Homo sapiens: one gene and its partners. The protein of the gene in region 1 purifies or fractionates together with the protein of each later gene. This does not show direct contact. Each region holds a gene or a part of one and is shown on either strand. Other genes may lie near its edges. The genes, in order: TFDP2, E2F5 and E2F3.

Region 1 (7,115 bases):
AAAAAAACAGGTTTCCCAAGAACTCTGGCAAGAATGTTGCTACTTGGTGAAGGAATGGTTATCATTAGTGCACCTGTCTTAAATCCTGAAATGCATCTTGGGACCTGCAGTTCAATATTTTGAAGACTACAAAGGTAGCAGTGGCTGTTGGCCTCTCCAGGTCCCTGCTGGGTCCCAGAGATGAGAAAGGGTGGAGTTAGTAAAAGAGGAGGCTGCCCCTTAAAGGACAGTTTGGTTTGGAGGGAAATCCCAATCCGTGCAGCTGAAAGATTCCCTGCAGGCCCCTGGGGACCTGCTGTCACCTCCCCAGTGTTCCTGACTGGTCTGAGAGGTGTGCTCCAGAACCCACGATAAGACCGAGTTCTCTAGAAACTGCCTCTATCTCTGAGTCTGTACTATGGCTTATTTCTGACAGAATGAAACTTTTGTATCAAAGGAGCTTCAGCTAAAGTTGAATGTTTTTCTTTCTCAGTTTTTATGGCCTTATTAAACATGTTTAGCTAGCCAAAGCTTCCTCCTCCTCACCATGCTCAGTGTTAGCATGGTGGTGAGGCTATAAAGAGGCACCACAGGAAGGAGCCTGCACTTCCCCCATGGGATTTAAAAAAGAACCAATTTGGGCCATGCTTGGTGCATCTAGCATAATCTTGGGACAAATCCACATGATTCAGGTCAAAGTTTTGGAGTTAATTCTCCCATTATTATTTGCTCCTTTCCAAAGCCTTAATGTGAAATTCAGTCAGGGTCTGGCCATGGTGGCAGGTGTCCCTACACTCTTTCATTCAGAGAAGGAGCAGCTGTGAATACACCACTGCAGTATTTCTAATGACATCTTGAGCCATAAACAACATAACTGCACTACCATATATCCAGGCAGTAGGAGTGTTCAACGTTTTCTAGTGTTTCTGTGAAACACTAAATATTGGATTAGTTTGAAATGCAATTGACCCCAGGAGTAGGCTCAATAAGGTCATTCTGATTAATGAAAATGTGAAAAAAGGTGACATGTACAAGGAAACACTGCTGTTCATATTCTTGAAATAGACTTTTCTTTAAGACAAAAGTAATGACATTTGGTTCATTTTCACAAATTGCACACTGGGTGAGATCATACAATTACTGCAGGGAACTGTAGGCAAGCAATTTGGTCATAGGAATTTGTTTCTTTGTCTTGTTTTAAATGAAAAAGCTATATGAAATGCATAGCTTTGATTAACCTAAAGATACAGTTTCCTTCTTTGTAAAACTCCAGATTTAGGATGCTGGCAAAGGCAGTGCTGGCAAAGTATTTAATGCACATGGAAATGCTATTCTATTTTGGCTTCCAGAAGTAGCCCTAGTAAATTCTATGCACCAATGCATTGGCTAATAATAATTTCAGTTTTACTATAAATTATCTAAATGTCACTTAAGTACTTAAGAAGTAGCGCTCGCTCCTTTCTAGAAGCTGTCTAAGGCAGCTGATGCGTAAAGCACCTCATCTAGACCTCCAACTAGTTCAGCAGTTCAATCTGTGCCCCTCAGCCACAGGACTGCCCTCAGTATCCCTCACTACACAGCTCCCCTCTCCTGGGGACTTTTCATGTTCATTTCTGCCTTGTCAAAGGCAGTCCAGGCAAGGAAGAGAAACGTCAGAAACACGATCGTCAAGGACTGCTCCGTGTAGCAATCTCAATTCTAAGAATAATTACATGGGTGTGAGGAACACAAAAATCCCACCTCACAGAAGATAAATGAGTTGCACTCACACTGCCAACTCTTCAGGGATTATCCCCACTATCTCCTCAGAAAGCATGCTTTCTTTGTTATATCATCTACTGCTCTGTTGGCCAGACTTTCATTCACACTATGTTAACTTTCATCTCAATCATCTCAGCCTTCATGTGATTTGCTTATTGTGTTTCTCTAGTTTTCACTGAACACACAGTGCAAACAAAGGCAAAGACTGAAGCAATCATTTCAAAAACAAGAGCTCACACTACAAACACACATGAGCATCACATATTGAAACGTAGGCTTTCTCTTGTCTTTATTCTGGGGAGGAGGAATCCTCCTCATCATCTTCCTCATCTTCATCATTGAACGAACAGGGGGTCTCGCCTCGGGACTCGGAGCAGTGAGAGGCCGCACTGCTGGACTGGTGACTGTTTGGGGCCAGGAACTGCCCAGTTGCTAAGGCCACTTCTGCATCCAAGCATAACCCTTGGTTTACACTAGCAAACAATTAAAAACACACAGGCTCATTAATGTGGTATAAACAGTTTTGTAAAACATAGGAATAAAAACAGGAAGGAGGTGCCATTGGTGAGATCTGCCACAAACCTGCTCAGCAGGACCTGTGCTGGCAGTAACATGACCCCGGCTCACCCCTACACAGACAGTCAGGGCTCTGGGGTTTGCCTTTCTAACCCTGAAAAAAATACGTACCTTGACTGGGGTAAGGTGGCACCAGTGGTCAGGTCTAAATTTGAAACTGATTGGGTAGAGTTCAGAAGTAGTCCCTGATTTAACCAAGAAGGTCCTGTGGAGATATCTAAAGGAAAAAATGAGAACAAAAAATGTCGGTCCTGCAAGTTCTGTGGCTGCTGTTGTTACAGTCTGAGGAAAGCACAGAAAAGCAAGAGCTAAGCTTATTCTTCATGACAGCTAGACAATTCTCTTGCTGTGACAAGAACCCAGGTTTCTTCATCTTCTTGGAAGAAAAAAAAATTTCTAGAACATAAGAGCAGGAAAAAAAAAATACGGGAAGGCAGCTTACGGAGAGAAGGTATTCAAATGAAAACACTCAAAGGCACTTTCTTACTCTTTTTCTTAGATAAGCCCTCCAGAGCACAGCCCATGGGATACATCCCAGTGTACCACCCTCAATGCCTTCTGCCCTCAGCACAAAAGACCTGGACTGTGGTGTTGAGAGCCAAAGCCAGAAGTGGGAAAAGAGAAAATCAAATCAGAAATACATGAGGTAAGAAGGCCACCCTGCTTAGAGGGCAGACAGACATGTTTTGGCCAAAACCCCCGCCGCAATGTCTTTTCAGGTGCCTGCTGCTGGTGAACTCAATGCTGCTACTCATCAAATATCTATTCTTTTTCCTGACAAGATTTTTCCTGGTGTCTGTTGCTTTCTAATTCAAACTAGCTCTTATTTTATTTTTTTTATTATTATTATACTTTAAGTTTTAGGGTACATGTGCACAATGTGCAGGTTAGTTACATATGTATACATGTGCCATGCTGGTGTGCTGCACCGATTAACTCGTCATTTAGCATTAGGTATATCTCCTAATGCTATCCCTCCCCCCTCCCCCCACCCCACAACTAGCTCTTATTTTAAAAAGGTCACATGCAGTCATGTTTTTAATGAGGCAGACACAGACGTTACTGTTTTAGTCTACAGAAAATAGTTTGGGCTGAGCACGGTGGCTCACGCCTATAATCCCAGCATTTTGGGAGGCCAAGGAGGGCGGATCACCTGAAGTTGGGAGTTCTGTCCAACATGGAGAAACCCCATCTCTATTAAAAATACAAAATTAGCTGGGCGTTGTGGTGCATGCCTGTAATCCTAGCTACTCGGGAGGCTGAGGCAGGAGAATCACTTGAACCCGGGAGGCGGAGGTTGCAGTGAGCTGAGATTGCACCACTGCACTCCAGCCTGGGCAACAAGAGCGAAACTCCATCTCAAAAAATAAAAGAAAAAAAGAAAAGAAAATATTTTGGATATCTCCTTGCCATCTTCTTTTCTATACATATACCACATTTATCCTATGACAACACTGATCAATTCTTATTGTAATTTTACTGGTTTAATACTTTTTATCTTCCCATCTACAGTGTTAGCTCAAAGAAGGCAGTAACTGGAACATGTAAGATCTAAATGTGGCGGGGCGCGGTGGCTCATGCCTGTAATCCCAGCACTTTGGGAGGCCAAGGCGGGCAGATTGAGCTCAGGAGTTCGAGACCAGCCTGGCAAATATAGCAAAGCCCCATCTCTATTAAAAATACAAAAATTAGCCAGGCATGGTGATACATGCCTGTAATCCCAGCTACTAGAGAGACTGAGGCAGGAGAATCACTTGAACCCAGGAGGCGGAGGTTGCAGTGAGCTGAGATCGTGCCACTGCACTCCAGCCTGAGTGACTGTCTCAAAAAAAACAAAAAAAAACAAAAAAACAAAAAAGTTACTGAATGAATGAGTATAGTCTCTGTCAGCTGCCACTTTACAAAATAAGTGGTAGATACATTAAAAGTAATTCCTAAAAAGAAATTCTATAAGCCCAAACACATACTCAGAAAATGTAATCTGCCAAAATGAGCTATGATTTAATTGAATCAAAATCTTTTTGCAATTACTATACAAAAAAATGAAACTATATGATTTAGATTGGAAACTCTGGTATCCAAACAAGAGGCCATTCCCACGTAGGAAAAAAGTAAACTAAATGACTATGCTAATTTTAGAACCGTCTTATGAACCTTTTTCTTTGAGACAGCTGGGAAAAAAAAGAGACTTCAAGTCTAAGAAGAATAGCAGACTTTAAATACATTAAATAACGACAAGTCTGTACAAGAAAATAAAATTAAAGCCAGAATCTTGTGCTGAATATTAATTAGTATATAGAACTATAGAAACCTTCTGTCAGAACACAGCTATTTACTTGTTTGTGAGCATAACACATTACATTCTCTTTTTACAATGAATTGGAAAAGCCTACATTTCTTTCCTATTATCACAGGATCCACACAATGGTTCTCACACTCCCACCCAGGCCATTCTGCCCCTTTACACACGAGAGGCACATGTTTCTTCCTTTGAACTAACCAGAAAGTCTGTATCCCAGTCTGCAAATGAGGTCACGAAGAGATCAAAACCACAGAGCCTGCCTAATCGCCCTGAGCCTTTTCACTGGGAGTAAGCTAAAATAAAGTTCTGGTGATTTATTGAGTAAGCCCTTTATTCAGATTCTGCTGGCCTTCCAATGACACAGCAGGACCCAGGCTGGAGAGCGTGGAGAGAGGAAAGCTGGGTGGGGAGACGGAACAGGTGGGCTGAGGGGCAAGGAGAGGCGGGGGGCCCTTGCAGGGGATGAATGGTGCCAACCGAAGAACTAAAACAGAAACCAAATCTCAGCCAACAAACTCTTCTGTTGTGAGCAAAGGACCAAATCATAGAATAAAACAAAATTAAAGCTACCTTTTTGCTTACATTGGATTTAATGTATCTTAGACCTAGTATTAAAATGCCTTTAAAAAGCGATGTGAAATTCTAGATGGTTATACTTACAAATAAAATAAACAAAAGAAAGCAAAGGCAAAAACACTGCTTATATATTCATTTCTTTTTTTAAAAGACAGAGTCTCGCTCTGTTGCCCAGGCTGGAGTGCAGTGGTGCAATCTCCGTTCACTGCAACCTCTGCCTCCCAGGTTCAAGTGATTTTCCTGCCCCAGCCTCTCAAATAACTGGAATTACAGGCATGTGTCACCATGCCTGGCTAATTTTTGTATTTTTAGTAGAGATGGGGTTTTGCCATGTTGGTCAGCCTGGTCTTGAACTCCTAACCTCAAGTGATATGCCTGCCTCAGCCTCCCAAAGTGCTGGGATCACAGGCGTAAGCCACCGCACCCAACCTATATAGTCAAATTGTATCTACAAAATATGTAATATTTTCAGGAATTAGGAAAATCAGGAAGATTTCTAAATTAGTGAAAAAAATCTTAATTATAGGACATGTAAAACATAGTGCTTCTGTTTTCAAGTATACTCAGTATAACTTTACAACTCTATAAAAAGACAAGTAACTCTACTTAAAAATGAGCAAAGGATGGACTGTGGGAGGCCGAAGCGGGTGGATCACCTGAGGTCAGGAGTTCGAGACCAGCCTGGCCAACGTGGTGAAACCCTGTCTCTACTAAAAATACAAAAATTAGCTGGGCGTGGTGGTGGGCGCCTGTAATTCCAGCTACTTGGGAGGCTGAGACAGGAGAATCGCCTGAACCCGGGAGGTGGAGCTTGCAGTGAGCTGAGACTGCACCATTGCACTCCAGCCTGGGTAACAGAGAGAGACTCCATCTCAAAAAAAAAGTCAATGTGAATAGACATATTTCTGAGGAAGACATACAAATAGTCAATAAACACATGAAAAGATGCTCAACATCAGAAGTCATTATGGAAATGCAAATCAAAATCACAGTGGGAGCCAAGGCAGGTGGATCGCTTGAGCTCAGAACTTTGAGACTAGCCTGGACAACATGGCAAAACCCCATCTCTACCAAACATATCAAAAAAAAAAAAAAGATTTAACCGGGCATGGTGGCACACATCTGTGGTCCCAGCTACTCAGGAGGCTGAGGTGGGTGGATCGTTTGAGCCCATGAGTTCGAGGCTGCAGTGAGCAGAGATTGCGCCACTGCACTCCAGCCTGGAGAGCAAGACTCTCTCCCCTCCACCACCACCCTGCCCCACCCCCCCCACAAAAATCACAGCGAGATATCACTTCACTTCTGTGAGGATGGCTATAATTCAAAAGATGTATAGTGACAAGTGTAGAAAAGGATATGGAGGGCAGGCACGGTGGCTCACATGTATAATCCCAACACTTTGGGAGGCTGAGGCAGGTGAATTCAGGCCAAGAGTTCCAGATCAGCCTGGCCAACATGGTGAAATCCTGTCTCTACTAAAAATACCAAAACTAACCGGGCATAGCGGCAAGGTGCCTGTAATCCCAGCTACTCAGGAGGCTGAGGCAGGAGAATCACTTGAACCTGGGAGGTGGAGGTTGCAGTGAGCCAAATTACGTCACCGCACTCCAGCTTGGGCGACAGAGTGAGACTCCGTCTCTAAATAAGTAAGTAAGGATGTGGAGAAATTGGAACACTTATCCACTGGTTGGACTGTAAATGGTACAGGAGCTTTGGAAAACAGTTTGGTATTTCCTTAAAATGTTAAACACAGAGTTACCATATGACCCAGCAATTTCACTCGTAGGTATATGTTTTTAGAGATAAAAACATATGTTTACACATAAACTTTTATAAGAATGTTAACAGCAGCATCATTCGAGATAGCCAAAAAGTGGAAACAGTCCAAATATCTACCAACTGATGAATGGATAAACAAAAT
Region 2 (7,115 bases), on another chromosome or scaffold:
ATTAACAAGAGAAACTACAGAATATTCACAAATACATGGAAATTTAAAAACAAAAAACATGCTCTTAAACATCTAATGAGTCAATGAAAAAATACAAAGGGAAACTGAAAAATATCTTAACAAATGAAAATGGAAACAATATAACAAAATCTATGGAATACAGCAAAAGCAGTTCTAACAGGGATTTTTTTTTATGCTTGGATTGTTAGAGAAAACTAAGGAGGAATTTATATATATACACACCATATATATACCTTACATATATATATACCATATATATACACCTTATATATACACACCATATATATACACCTTACATATATATACCATATATATACACCTTATATATACATATCATATATATACACCTTATATATACCGTATATATACACCTTATATATACCATATATATACCTTATATATATCATATATACACCTTATATATACCATATATACCATATATATACCATATATACCTTACATATATACCATATATACACCATATATACCTTACATATATACCATATATATACCTTATATATACCATATATACTTTATATATATCATATATATACACACACACCATATATATACCTTATGTATATACCATATATATATATACCGTACATATATATACACACACACATACACACACCTTAAGTTCTGGGGTACATGTGCAGAACGTGCAGTTTTGTTACATAGGTATACATGTGCCATGGTGGTTTGCTGCAACCATCAACTCGTCACCCACATTAGGTATTTCTGTTAATGCTATCCCTCCCCTAGCCCCCCAACCCTGAACAGGCCCCACTGTGTGATGTTCCCCTCCCTGTGTCCATGTGTTCTTGTTCAACTCCCACTTACGAGTGAGAACATGTGGTGTTTGGTTTTCTGTTATTGTGATAGTTTGCTGAGAATGATGGTTTCCAGCTTCATCCATGTCCCTGCAAAGGACATGAACTCATCCTTTCTTACGGCTGCATAGTATTCCATGGTGTATATGTGCCAGATTTTCTTTATCCAGTCTACCATTGATGGATATTTGGGTTGGTTCCAAGTCTTTGCTATTGTGAATAGTGCCACAATAAACATACGTGTGCATGTGTCTTTATCATAGAATGATTTATACTCCTTTGGGTGTATAGCCAGTAATAGGATTGCTGGGTCAGATGGTATTTCTAGTTCTAGATCCTTGAGGAATCACCACACTGTCTTCCACAATGGTTGAACTAATTTAAACTCCCACCAACAGTATAAAAGCATTCCTAATTCTCCACATCCTCTCCAACATCTGTTGTTTCCTGACTTTTTAATGATCGCCATTGTAACTGGTGTGAGATGGTATCTCATTGTGGTTTTGATTCGCATTTTTCCAATGACCAGTGACGATGAGCATTTTTTCATATGTTTGTTGGCTGCATAAAAGTCTTCTTTTGAGAAGTGTCTGTTCATATCCTTTGCCCACTTTTTGATGGGGTTGTTTTTTATTGTAAATTCGTCTAAGTTCTTTGCAGATCCTGGATATGAACTCTTTGTCAGATGGGTAGATTGCAAAGATCTTCTCCCATTCTATAGGCTGGCTGTTCATTCTGATGATAGTTTCTTTTGCTGTGCAGAAGCTCTTTAGTTTAATTAGATTCTATTGGTCAATTTTGACTTTTGTTGCCATTGCTTTTCGTGTTTTAGACAAGAAGTCTTTGCCCATGCTTTTGTCCTGAATGGTATTGCCCAGGTTCTTTTCTAGGATTTTTATGGTTTCAGGTCTTACGTTTAAGTCTTTCATCCATCTTGAGTTGATTTTTGTATAAGGTGTAAGGAAGGGCTCCAGTTTCAGTTTTCTGCATATGGCTAGCCAGTTTTCCAACATCATTTATTAAATAGAGAATCTTTTCCCCATTTCTTCTTGGTGTCAGGTTTGTCAAAGATCAGATGGTTGTAGATGTGTGGTGTTTATTTCCGAGGCCTCTGTTCTGTTCCATTGGTCTATATATCTGTTTTGGTACCAATACCATGCTGTTTTGGTTACTGTAGCCTTGTAGTTTAGTTTGAAGTCAGGTAGCATGATGCCTCCAGCTTTGTTATTTTTGCTTAAGATTGTCTTGGCTATGCAGGCTCTTTTTTGGTTCCCTATGAAGTTTGAAGTAGTTTTTTCCAATTCTGTGAAGAAAGTCATTGGTAGCTTGATAGGGATAGCATTGAATCTATAAATTACTTTGGGCAGTATGGCCATGTTCATGATATTGATTCTTCCTATCCATGAGCATAGAATGTTTTTCCATTTGTTTGTGTCCTCTCTTATTTCCTTGAGCAGTGGTTTATAGTTCTCCTTGAAGAGGTCCTTCACATCCCTTGTAAGTTGGATTCCTAGGTATTTTATTCTCTTAGTAGCAATTGTGAATGGGAGTCCACTCATGATTTGGCTCTTTGTCTGTTACTGGTGTATAGGAATGCTTGTGATTTTTGCACATTGATTTTGTATCTTGAGACTTTGCTGAAGTTGCTTATCAGCTTAAGGAGATTTGGGGCTAAGACGATGGGGTTTTCTAAATATACAATCATGTCATCTGCAAACAGAGGCCATTTGACTTCCTCTTTTCCTGTTTGAATGCCCTTTATTTATTTCTCTTGCCTGACTGCCCTGGCCAGAACTTCCAACTCTGTGCTGAATAGGAGTGGTGAGAGAGGGCATTCTTGTCTTATACTGGTTTTCGAAGGGAATGCTTCCAGTTTTTGTCCATTCAGTATGATACTGGCTGTGGATTTGTCATAAATAGCCTTATTATTTTGAGATATGTTCCACTGATACCTAGTTTATTGAGAGTTTTTAGCACGAAGGGCTGTTGAATTTTGTTGAAGGCCTTTTTGCATCTATTGAGATAATCATGGGTTTTTGTCATTGATTCTGTTTATGTGATGGATTTATTGATTTGCGTATGTTGAACCAGCCTTGCATCCCAGGCATGAAGCCAACTTGATCATGGTGGATAAGCTTTTTGATGTGCTGCTGGATTTGGTCTGCAGTATTTTATTGAGGATTTTTGCATCGACGTTCATCAGTTATATGGGCCTGACATTTTCTTTTTTTTCATTGGCCCATTTGGTTTCTTCAGAGGCCTCGCTCCTTGGCTTACAGATGATCACCTTCCTGCTGTGTCCTCACATGGTCTTTCCTCTGGGTGGCAGCATCTGAGGCATCTCTTTGTATATCCAAATTTCCCCTTTCTCATAAGGACCCCAGTCAGATTAGATCAGGTCACAGCTTAATTTTAGCTTAATTATCTTTCAAAGGCCCTATCCCCAAATACAATCACATTCTGATGTATGGAGGTAAGGCCTTCAACATATGAATTTTGGGGGACACATTTCAGCCTATAACATCCATTAAGCAACAAATTCCATTCTGTTTTCCCTCAACCCCTGGTAACCACCCTTCTACTTTCTGCCCCTGTGAATTTGACTACTCCAGGTACCTCACGTAAGTGGAATCATACAGTATTTATCTTTTTGTGACTGGCTTATTTCACCTAGCATTATGTCCTCAAAGTTTATCATGTTGCAGCATATGTCAGCATTTTCTTCTTTCTAAGCCTGAAGAATATTCCATTGTATATATACCACATTTTGTTAAGCTACTCATCTATTGACGGACATTAGGATTGCATCCACATTTTGGCTATTATGAATGCCACTGTTATGAACACAGGGGTATACATACCTTCTTGAGGCCCTGCTTTCAATTCTTTGGGTATACACCCAGGAGTGGAAGGGTCCTGAGAATTTGTAAGCATGCACTAAAGTTCTCGCTGTCCTACCCACATATCTCTCCTTAGGCTAATTCTACCTTAAAATGTTTGCCTGGTATTACAAACTAGGGTCTTTTGTTGTCGTTGTTGCTGTTTTTCGAGACGGAGTCTTGCTCTGTCACCCAGGCTGGAGTGCAGTGGCGTGATCGTGGCTCACTGCAAGCTCCGCCTCCCGGGTTCACACCATTCTCCTGCCTCAGCCTCCTGAGTAGCTAGGACTACAGGCACCAGTCATCACACCCGGCTAATTTTTTTGTATTTTTAGTAGAAACGGGGTTTCACCGTGTTAGCCAGGATGGTCTCAATCTCCCGACCTCGTGATCTGCCCGCCTCGGCCTCCCAAAGTGCTGGGATTACAGGCGTGAACCACCGGGCCCGGCCAAACTAGTGTCTTCAATTATTTATTTATCCCAGGATGTATCTAAATCAGGCTCATAAACGGGTATGCATCAGGGACCTGTCAGATAAGACGCACCATACTTTATCACATTAATTCAGGTATAATTCAGGTAATTTATTAAGTTAAAGAATTATAATAAAAGAGATAAGCAATCTTCATCATGCTTAAAAAAGCTCATACTGACACCAAAATGGCAAATAAAATGTAGAACTTTAGTTATAACTTACATTTAATAGGAATTTTCAAAACAACATACAGATACATAGTCATGACTATCTTAACAGTTGTTCAAATTCTTAACTGTGAACAAGTGAAATCCTAGTTTAATTTATGCAATAATACAGAATATGTCACCAATAGCTTCATTTTCAGGAGCACAGTACCTCCTTCTTTTCCACCTTGGGCAGAGGAGTAAGAATAATCATGCATTTTTCCATGCCCTTATGCAAATGGAAACCTACCTACATACATTTATTTTTGAAGACTACTGAAAGATGGTATAACATAGAGAATAACAATAAATGGTCTAATTTCAAATCTTAGCTCTCACTTTCTACTGTACAACACCAGGCAAGTTATCTAACCTATCTTGGCCTACTTAACTAGCAGTTTCTTACGCTGTGAAATGGGGCTGTTCTGCCGAAATGTTCACTGTTGTTAAGAGGATAACATTAGCTAAAAACATGTAAAATGTTTTGCATATGGTAAGCTCTTGATGTATATTAGCTATTAACAGCATAAACTGGCAAACCACGTAGCTTGAAATAACCATGATATAATTTCTTATCTCACTGGAATAAAGAAATAATAACTATCCCACCTCCACTATTGTAAATGAGACTATATGGTGTAGGTGAAGCTGCAGAGATAATGAATAAACTTTCCTCACATCACTTTCAATGTCTTTCTATTGCTTCCTAATTGTTAAGTTATACTACAACAGCTTTATTAAAATTGATTTTCTATGTTGAGCCATGTTTTTTTTTTTTGAGACACAGTTTCGCTCTTGTCGCCCAGGATGGAGTGCAGTGGTGCGATCTCGGCTCACTGCAACCTCCGCCTCTTGAGTTCAAGCGATTCTCCTGCTTCAGCCTGCCAAGTAGCTGGGATTACAGGCGCCTCCACGACGCCTGGCTAATTTTTTTGTATTTTTAGTAGAGACGGGGTTTCGCCATGTTGGGCAGGCTGGTCTCGAACTCCTGACCTCAGGTGATCTGCCCGCCTCGGCCTCTCAAAGTGCTGGGATTACAGGCGTGAGCCACCACGCCTGACCGAGCCATGTTTTCAATTAGTTATATTATTAAGAAGAAATGGCCAGGCGCGGTGGCTCACGCCTGTAATCCCAGCACTTTGGGAGGCCGAGGTGGGAGGATCACGAGGTCAGAAGATCGAGACCATTCTAACACGGTGAAACCCCACCTCTACTAAAAATACAAAAAAAAAAAAAACAAAACTAGCCGGGCGTGGTGGCGGGCGCCTGTAGTCCCAGCTACTCAGGAGCCTGAGGCAGGAGAATGGCGTGAACCCAGGAGGCGGAGCTTGCAGCGAGTGGAGATCGCGACACTGCACTCCAGCTTGGGTGACAGAGTGAGACTCCCGTCTCAAAAAAAAAGAAGAAATGTGTCACTAAGATACAACCTTACGTTCTTATTCTCCAGCAGCATAAGATAGAAAAGAAATAGCATCTATGTGGTCTAGGATACTTTATGATATCCAAAATATTTGGATATTTTACTTGAAGTTTGATATACTTTTTTATTCTTTGGGATATTCAAAAACTGTTTCTTCAAGGCCGGAAGCGGTGGCTCACAGGGGAGACCAAGGTAGGCAGATAGCTTTGAGCTCAGGAGTTCGAGACCAGCCTGGGCAATATGGCAAAACCCTGTCTCTACTAAAAATATAAAAATAAGCCAGGCATAATGGTGTACGCCTGTAGTGCCAGCTACTTGGTAGGCTGAGGCAGGAGAATCACTTGAGCCCGGGAAGTGGAGGTTACAATGAGCTGAGATTGTACCACTGCACTCCAGCCTGGGCGACAGAATAAGACCCTGTCTCAAAAAACAAACAAGACCGGCCGGGCGCGGTGGCTCACGCTTGTAATCCCAGCACTTTGGGAGGCCGAGGCGGGCGGATCACGAGGTCAGAAGATCGAGACCATCCTGGCTAACATGGTGAAACCCCGTCTCTACTAAAAATACAAAAAAAATTAGCCGGGCGTGATGGCGGGTGCCTGTAGTCCCAGCTACTCGGGAGGCTGAGGCAGGAGAATGGCATGAACCCGGGAGGCGGAGCTTGCAGTGAGCCGAGATTGCGCCACTGCACTCCCGCCTGGGCCACAGAGCGAGACTCTGTCTCAAAAAAAAAAAAAAAAAAAAACAAGACCAACCAAAAAACCATATATATATATATATATATATATATATATATATATATATATATGTATAGTTTCTTTAACTGCGTTTAAAAGTCAAGTGTATAACTTAAAAGTTTCAAAAAAATTATGCTGAAATATGCCCCCACCAAAGTAAGAATACAAGAGAAAATGTGTCTTTATAATTTCAAATTAGAGGAAATTTATAATTGTCAGTGTGAGTCCATCTTTAATATGTATTATCAAACATGTCTTAATGGGCTGGGTATGGTGGCTCACGCCTGTAATCCCAGCACTCTGGGAGGCTGAGGCAAGCAGATCATTTGAGGTTGGGAGTTCGAGACCAGCCTGGCCAACATGGTGAAACCCCTTCTCTACTAAACATACAAAAATGAGTCGGGCATGGTGGCGGGCACCTGTAATCCCAGCTACTTGGGAGGCTGAGGCAGGAGAATCGCTTGAACCCGGGAGGTGGAGGTTGCAGTGAGCAGAGATCTGCCACTGCACTCCAGCCTGGGTGACAGAGCAAGACTCAGTCTCA
Region 3 (7,115 bases), on another chromosome or scaffold:
TTCTCCTGCCTCAGCCTCCCGAGTAGCAGGGATTACAGGCACGTGCCACCACGCACAGCTAATTTTTGTATTTTTAGTAGAGACAGGGTTTCACTGTGTTGGCCAGGACAGTCTCGATCTCCTGACCTCGTGATCTGCCTGCCTCGGCCTCCCAAAGTGCTGGGATTACAGGTGTGAGCCACCGCACCCGGCAAGACTTACTTTCCTAGCGTTCTCCTCCCATATCCTCTCCCCATCTCATTGGGGGGGAAAATAAGACAAAAATTCTCCAACAAAGGCTTTTCTCCTCAAACCTTTTTCATTTCCCTCTCTGATGAGCTCTGCAGTGTGATTCAAAGGTGTGTGGCCAAGTGTCTCTGATGATCCAACAAGACAGTTCACAGCTTTGCTCCTCACTTTAGCTGGTTTTCAAAAATGCTGTAAGGAAACATTCTCTGCCAATAGCAAAAGCCTGAAGCGACTCCATAAGTGGGTGAAGGAGCCGTTTTTCCCAAATCATTATTTTCTTCTGCAAACCAGTCAGAATGTCTTTTAAAACATGTTACCTAATACCAATAGAAGTTTGTGTTTCTTGCCTAGGCTTGTGGTTCCAATACAGATGGTTCTAGTCACCCTCATTTTTAACATAGTTTCTAAAAGACAAAAGTGGAGTTTTTACCTTTGGAAGCGGGTTTAGGGATATTCCCATTGTGGTCTTGGTTGTTTGTTTTCATTGGACTGTGTGTTTCAGTCTCTTCTGGACATAAGTAAACCTCAATGGGCCCTTGGGTACTTGCCAAATGTATTTGTAGGCTCTATGAACAGAAGTGGGAGAAGTTCGAATCAGAAGTTCTTTTAGAAATAAAAGCCATAGTAATTCTTGTCTAAAAATGGAAAGTAAGAACAATGTTCGTTTTTCACTTGCTTTTTCCCTACTAGTCCAACTCTATGAAAGACTGTCATCCTCTAGAGCAGGGGTCAGCAAACCACAGCCTAAGGGCCAAATCCAGTTCACCAAGTGGCTTTGTAAATAAAGTTTTATTGGAAGAGAGTCACATCCATTCCCATTGTTTATTATTGCCTCTGGCTGTTTTCGTATCACAATGTCAGAGGTGCACAGTTGAATAGTCTAGACACAGGCTGTACGGCTCGCAAAGCCAAAAATATTTACTATCTACCTGGCACTTCAATGAAAAAGTTTGCTGAGTCCTGCCCTAGAGAAAGAAAACTATTTTAGTGGGGCTTGGGGGAGAGGGGAGTCATTCTGAAAATAGCACAATGGGTGAGGTGAATTGTGTTCTTTGGATATATTCTTTTTCTGCAAATTATTACAAGGTCCTTTAAGTGTTCCAAATTCAGTATCTCCATGTTATTGTTCCTTTATGGTAGGACTTTTTCATGTTGAACTGTATACTGATGAATAGTATTCTTAAGTGCTAGGAACTGCATCTATTAAGAGAATGCAGCATACCAACATTTAAAAATCTTTTTCATCTAGGTCAAAGAGCTATTATTATCTTTTAAGGTAAGAAGTCTACCCTAGATGGAAGCGTGTAACTTTCATTCTCTTTTTATCTCCTATGCATTTTCTTTTTACTACAACTCTTTATGTTATAGTTGTAGTCTAGGCCTCTATTATCCAAGTATATCTGAAAATTACAAAAATATGCCCCCTACTTTCTTGCAATATTCTAGTCTATCAGCTAACCCAAAGCCCCATGTGATCTCTCAAAATGTTATAAGTTAGGGAGAGACTTTAAAACATTTATATATCTGTTCGTGGTGGGGACCATATACAGGATAATCAATATAAACTTTCCAAAGTGATTCAAATTGATCAAAACCGTTGATGACAAATTATGAAAAAGAGAAAGTATGAGAGGGACAGCGCATCATATACCACTTTGAACTGAACATCCTGCTAGGTCAAAGTTAGGTTGTTTGAATACTCAATGAACATCAAACCATTGAAATGTTTTCAAATGTATGGTTAAGTAAAATAAATGGGAAAGAACCATCAAGTTCATAGGAGGGGGACAGACTTTAACTATGAGTCAATGAGTCATTCAATTTCAGGCATTCCACAAAGATCTTTGCAGATGAACAAAGACGCTGTCTCCTTACCTCTATTGAGTCAGGCACTTCAAGTCTTGTTTCTGGAGGGGCTTTCACAACTATAACAGTTTGGTCTTTAAGGCCACTAATTTTTCGAATATCTTGATATGTAACATAAGCTAACGTAAAGAGTGTCAAGGAATCTTCCATCTAATTACCTCAGATATAAGTATGATGAAAATGACAAAATAGATGCATGGAATATTTTAAAGTATTTTATGACTTAGAAGTATGCATATGTGGCCGGGCGCGGTGGCTCACACCTGTAATCCCAGCACTTTGGGAGGCCGAGGCGGGTGGATCATGAGGTCAGGAGATGGAGACCAACCTGGCTAACACGGTGAAACCCCGTCTCTACTAAAAATACAAAAAGTTAGCCAGGCGTGGTGGCGGGCGCCTGTAGTCCCAGCTACTCGGGAGGCTGAGGCCGGAGAATGGCATGAACCCGGGAGGTGGAGCTTGCAGTGAGACGAGATCGCGCCACTGCACTCCAGCCTGGGCGACAGAGCGAGACTCCTTCTCAAAAAAGTATGTGTATGTCTCCCCTTCTGGATGTGCAAATGTTTAGGGTCTCCCATGAATCTTCATTTCTGGTTGACACTCTAAACAACTAAAGAAATGAATAGCTTTATCCCGCCCATTTCTAAAAAGACTATGGCTATTTAAAATATTAAACATAGAAACAGAACAGTTAAAATAAATGATCATAAGAAAATAAAAAACTAAGTGGTCAGAAATTTTATCTTGAAGCCAGGGTCCTTTGCAGCACAGGCATTCCATGAACTCCAATAAAGTGTTCTGTCACTCAAACTGAATGATGGCAGATTCCAATTTGCAGGAAAAAAAAATGTAATCTCTATTAGCCATAATTTTTTTGAAACTCCAGTTACTTCTATCTACAAGCAAGTGTCAGCAGCCACCAAGTAAATAAATAAGTAACAAATACATTAGTGGAGGAACTCAGAATACTGCTCAGGCAGACAGCTTGTTTTCTTAAGTGCACCTGGGCTGGTTGTGATTATGTACTGCCTACAGAAAAGAGTGTCATTATTTCTGTTAGAAAAATTATGCTTTGCGTGATACTATATTAACTCTATCAATATTTCAGTGTTCATGAGGAAGAAAGCAGTTTCCAGGTGCTCTGCGACTTGAATGAATTTGAGAAACACTGATTTAGGAAAAGAGAAAAGTATAATATCTCAGTACTCTTGGTAGTTATTTCCTTTTTCTTTTTGAGACAGAATCTTGCTCTGTCACCCAGGCTGGAGTTCAGTGGCCCAATCTCAGCTCACTGCAACCTCCGTCTCTGGGGTTAAATGATTCTCGTGCCTCAGCCTCCCAAACAGATGGGACTACAGGCGTGCACCACCACACCCGGCTAATTTTTTTTATTTTTAGTAGAGATGGGGTTTTACCCTGTTGCCCAGGCTGGTCTTGAACTCCTGGACTCAAGTGATCTGCCTGCCTCCGGCCTCCCAAAGTGCTGGGATTACAGGTGTGAGCCACGGCGCCCGGCCTTGGTCATTTTTTCTAAGCACTGAACCATTCTTTTAAATGTCCTGACAGCCAAGCCTAAAAGGCTATCATGAAAGAATATGGTACTTACGATATGACAAAAGTATTCAATTAATGTACAATGTCTTTAGCCCGTTATTATTTTTTATATGTACCCACAAAAAATTCCTAGGATAAAACAGCAAGTAACAAACCAATGAAGGCATTTCAGCAGGTAGTATAACGTATTTAATGGCTAATAGAGTCCGTGATCTAATATGTTTAATATAAAAAAAAGGGGGGGCTTAGAGACCCTAGAATAAATCATGTCCCTTACGATAGTAGCTTCTTTTTTTTTTTTTTTTTGAGACGGACTCCCACTCTGTCACTAAGGCTGGAGTGCAGTGGCACGATTTCAGCTCACTGCCACCTCTGTCTCCCAGGTTCAAGTGATTCTCCTGCCTCAGCCTCCCGAGTAGCTGGGATTACAGGCATGAGCCACCGTGCCTGGCTGTAGTAGCTTCTTATTAGAAACTGAATGCAGCTATGGAACTACTACTCCAGAAAGAAAGCACATTCACACGAAATCTGCATACACATGTAGGGGATCTATCACAGACTATCTCCTTCAAATCTTTACAGTTGAGATGATGGCTAATTCAGTGTTGAGCTTGTAGTGGCTGCTCTTGCAGGATTCTGGGTTTTAGGTCACTACATAACCCATCAAAGAAGTCAACGGATGCCTTTATAGAGGGCCAGGCAGTTCTGATTTTTTACTGAGAACACTGGAAAAAACTGACAACCAGGTACTTACACTACAGCTCACTGTCAAAAAGCTGTATGACAAGAACTTATTAAAATAAAAACTCATCACTTCTTGGCCTTTTGGCTAAGATCAAGTGTAAAAGAAAAACTCATCTACGATTACTCAACATGCTGCAGGAAGGAAAATTTCAACACATTTGTGAACAAGCTGTACCAATTTGGGAACTGAATGGTGAACTGAAATAAATTGTGCAAATGTATTTTCTAATCTTACAAACTTAAAAGTGCTTCCTTTGTGGCTCCCTCCTGAATTTACTCCTTGGGTTCGAAGTTCCCTGCAAGGAAGCTTTCATTTTCTGCAACAAAGGCCCCAGAGAGAGCTAATATAGGTGACAATGCCATAAGCCACATGTCCCGGAAGGCTGCCAATCACATGTAACCACCCATCTCTTCCACAATGGGGCTCCCAACCAAACAATGAATGAAACAGCCCAACTGTTGGTTTCTTCCCCTGTAAACCCACTCTGCCAACCACTGGGGGTCCAAATCACTACGCCTCTCTTCCATCTCACTAATTATCGGCTGACAAGGTTAATTCTTTGGTCAACAGGAAATGAACAATTGCAGGTTTGAAAAACTGCCAACATTGGAAGAAAATAAATATCTCCATATTCTCCAAGGGGGAGCCTGTTAAAGATGAGACACTAGAAGAATCTGGGCAGAACACTTTTTAGTTTTTGTCAAATAATGGTAAATGTGCAATCATCAGAAGTTTGGAACTAAAACTAGAGATGGGATAACTTACAGTACTGTTTTTTGTCTTCTAATAACTGAGAATATTGGCAAGTCTTGTTTGACATAATGAGGCAATCTCTCTCTTACTTTGTCTGTAGTGAGATGATGAAGAGCAAGTTTTCCTGAGATCGTCAATAGATTGTCAGGAAGTTGAGAACAAGAACTGACCTTTTGTATTTTTATTTGCGAGGACTAATGTTTGTAGTGGAACAGAGGAATTGAGAGGGGTTTCTCAGGTCTTGGGGTGCTTTTGAAATCAGTTTTTTCATTGGGAATCAGCAGAATGCACTTTAAGAGTTATAGTATGATTTTTCTCTACTCTTTCAAACCCTTCAACTATAGCCCAATCAGATAGATTCAACCAATTTCAATTGCTACGATATCTGGTGAGAAGAAAATAGAATGTGAGAACCCCAACAGTGACAGCTAACACCCACCAAAAATCTGGGAAGCCAAAGACGAATCTGCTTAGTGTTGTCATTAATATTAATACCGACACCTTATGTATCTTTTAATAGTGTGGCCTTACGCTACGAGTATACCCATGTCTCAACCACACATGAAAAAATGCTTTAAAAAACAGTTCCCACCTGGTATCAAAATAGATAATAATAGGATCGAGTTGGTGACTATCTTACCATAAATACTGACTTTTTAGGCAAAGCTAACTGGGTTTACACACACACGTGCACACACACACACATACACACACAGGCACACAGGTACTCATTTGCATGACATCAGAATAATAATCTACCTTGTGCATAAGTCAGATTGTCAACTCTGGAAATAGTCTAGGAAGCACTAACCCCCAGAGAACTGGCGGCACAAAGGATATCTTTGATTCTCTGAATCCTCGGTTAACAGTTTGAGGTCCAGGGTGCAGCTTTGGATCAGTTCATCTAATTTCTTCTCTTCCTGACTGAGCTCGGTCACTTCTTTTGACAGGCCTTGACACTGGGCCAGCATGCCCCCATCCTCAGACAGACTGCAGCCCCTAGAAACCCAAACACAGACTCTTCATGGCTACTCATGGGAGGGAGGGGAAGGAGAAATGATCCTTTGGGTAAATGTCTCCTCTTGACATAGGAGGTCACATTGCTTGTTAGCCAAGTGTTAAAATTAGAACATTTACACATATATATATATATATATATATTTTTTTTTTCATAAATACAGTTCTGCACTTTTCACAGCATAGAAATTTAGTGAAAGCGCACTGCTATTTTCAGGATTCTTTCCTCCAGGGGAGGTCTACTTCTTCAGAAGGTTCAAATTCAGAGGGCAAAAGAAGGCAACCACCTTCCTCCCTTGCCTCATGGCTCCCAGGTGGTGGGGGAAGAAAGGCGAAAAAGGATAAAAAGATAGAGAAAGACAGAGAAGATGGAATGGTTCAAAATTAAAAAAAAAAAAAAACAAAAAAACAACCCATCCAAAAAAGCATCAAAAACTCAGGTAATTACTGAGGGTCTTATATCAACAACTAAAAAGAAAAGAAAGTAAAGGAAACAGATGTATGTGATGTATGCAAGAACTGAGACTAGTGCACAATATGTTTCTCTAAACCAGAGGCCAAAACGGGTTACCAAACTGTCAACAAAATTCCAAAATGTGCAAAAAAAGGTATGTATTCATCTTCCATCTGAATTAGTATCTTTTCAAAGCCCTCCTGTAACAGAATTATTCCTTCCAAAATGCTTTAATAATTCAATACTGTGCTTATAGTGGCTATTTAGATGCTCTAAAATTCACAAAATATATTACATATGTAATCATACGTGTGGCTGTATAAGTATCATGCTACCATCCCTGCTCTACAGACGAAATGGAGGCATTTAAGTCTTGCCTTAATTTACCCAGAAAGTGAGTTAATCTGCTATTAGAACCATGGATAAAGATATTCTGTAACTATGCAGTTGTACGTATACACATAGATAACCCATAAGCCATCATTTCCAGATTCTTAT

Evidence for each region.
Region 2: the proteins of TFDP2 (region 1) and E2F5 purify together in Homo sapiens (affinity purification with mass spectrometry; 3 studies listed by BioGRID and IntAct, with this or other methods). This does not show direct contact.
Region 3: the proteins of TFDP2 (region 1) and E2F3 purify together in Homo sapiens (affinity purification with mass spectrometry; 3 studies listed by BioGRID and IntAct, with this or other methods). This does not show direct contact.

The regions. Positions count from the first base shown.
Region 1 is NC_000003.12:141,950,484-141,957,598, forward strand, and holds part of TFDP2 (transcription factor Dp-2), read right to left. Parts: intron 2,534-7,115; coding exon 2,428-2,533; intron 2,214-2,427; coding exon 2,030-2,213; 3' UTR 1-2,029. UniProt on the Homo sapiens protein: Can stimulate E2F-dependent transcription.
Region 2 is NC_000008.11:85,180,039-85,187,153, reverse strand, and holds part of E2F5 (transcription factor E2F5), read right to left. Parts: intron 1-7,115.
Region 3 is NC_000006.12:20,481,792-20,488,906, reverse strand, and holds part of E2F3 (transcription factor E2F3), read right to left. Parts: intron 6,146-7,115; coding exon 5,987-6,145; coding exon of another isoform or gene 5,958-5,986; intron 2,219-5,957; coding exon 2,104-2,218; intron 795-2,103; coding exon 659-794; intron 1-658.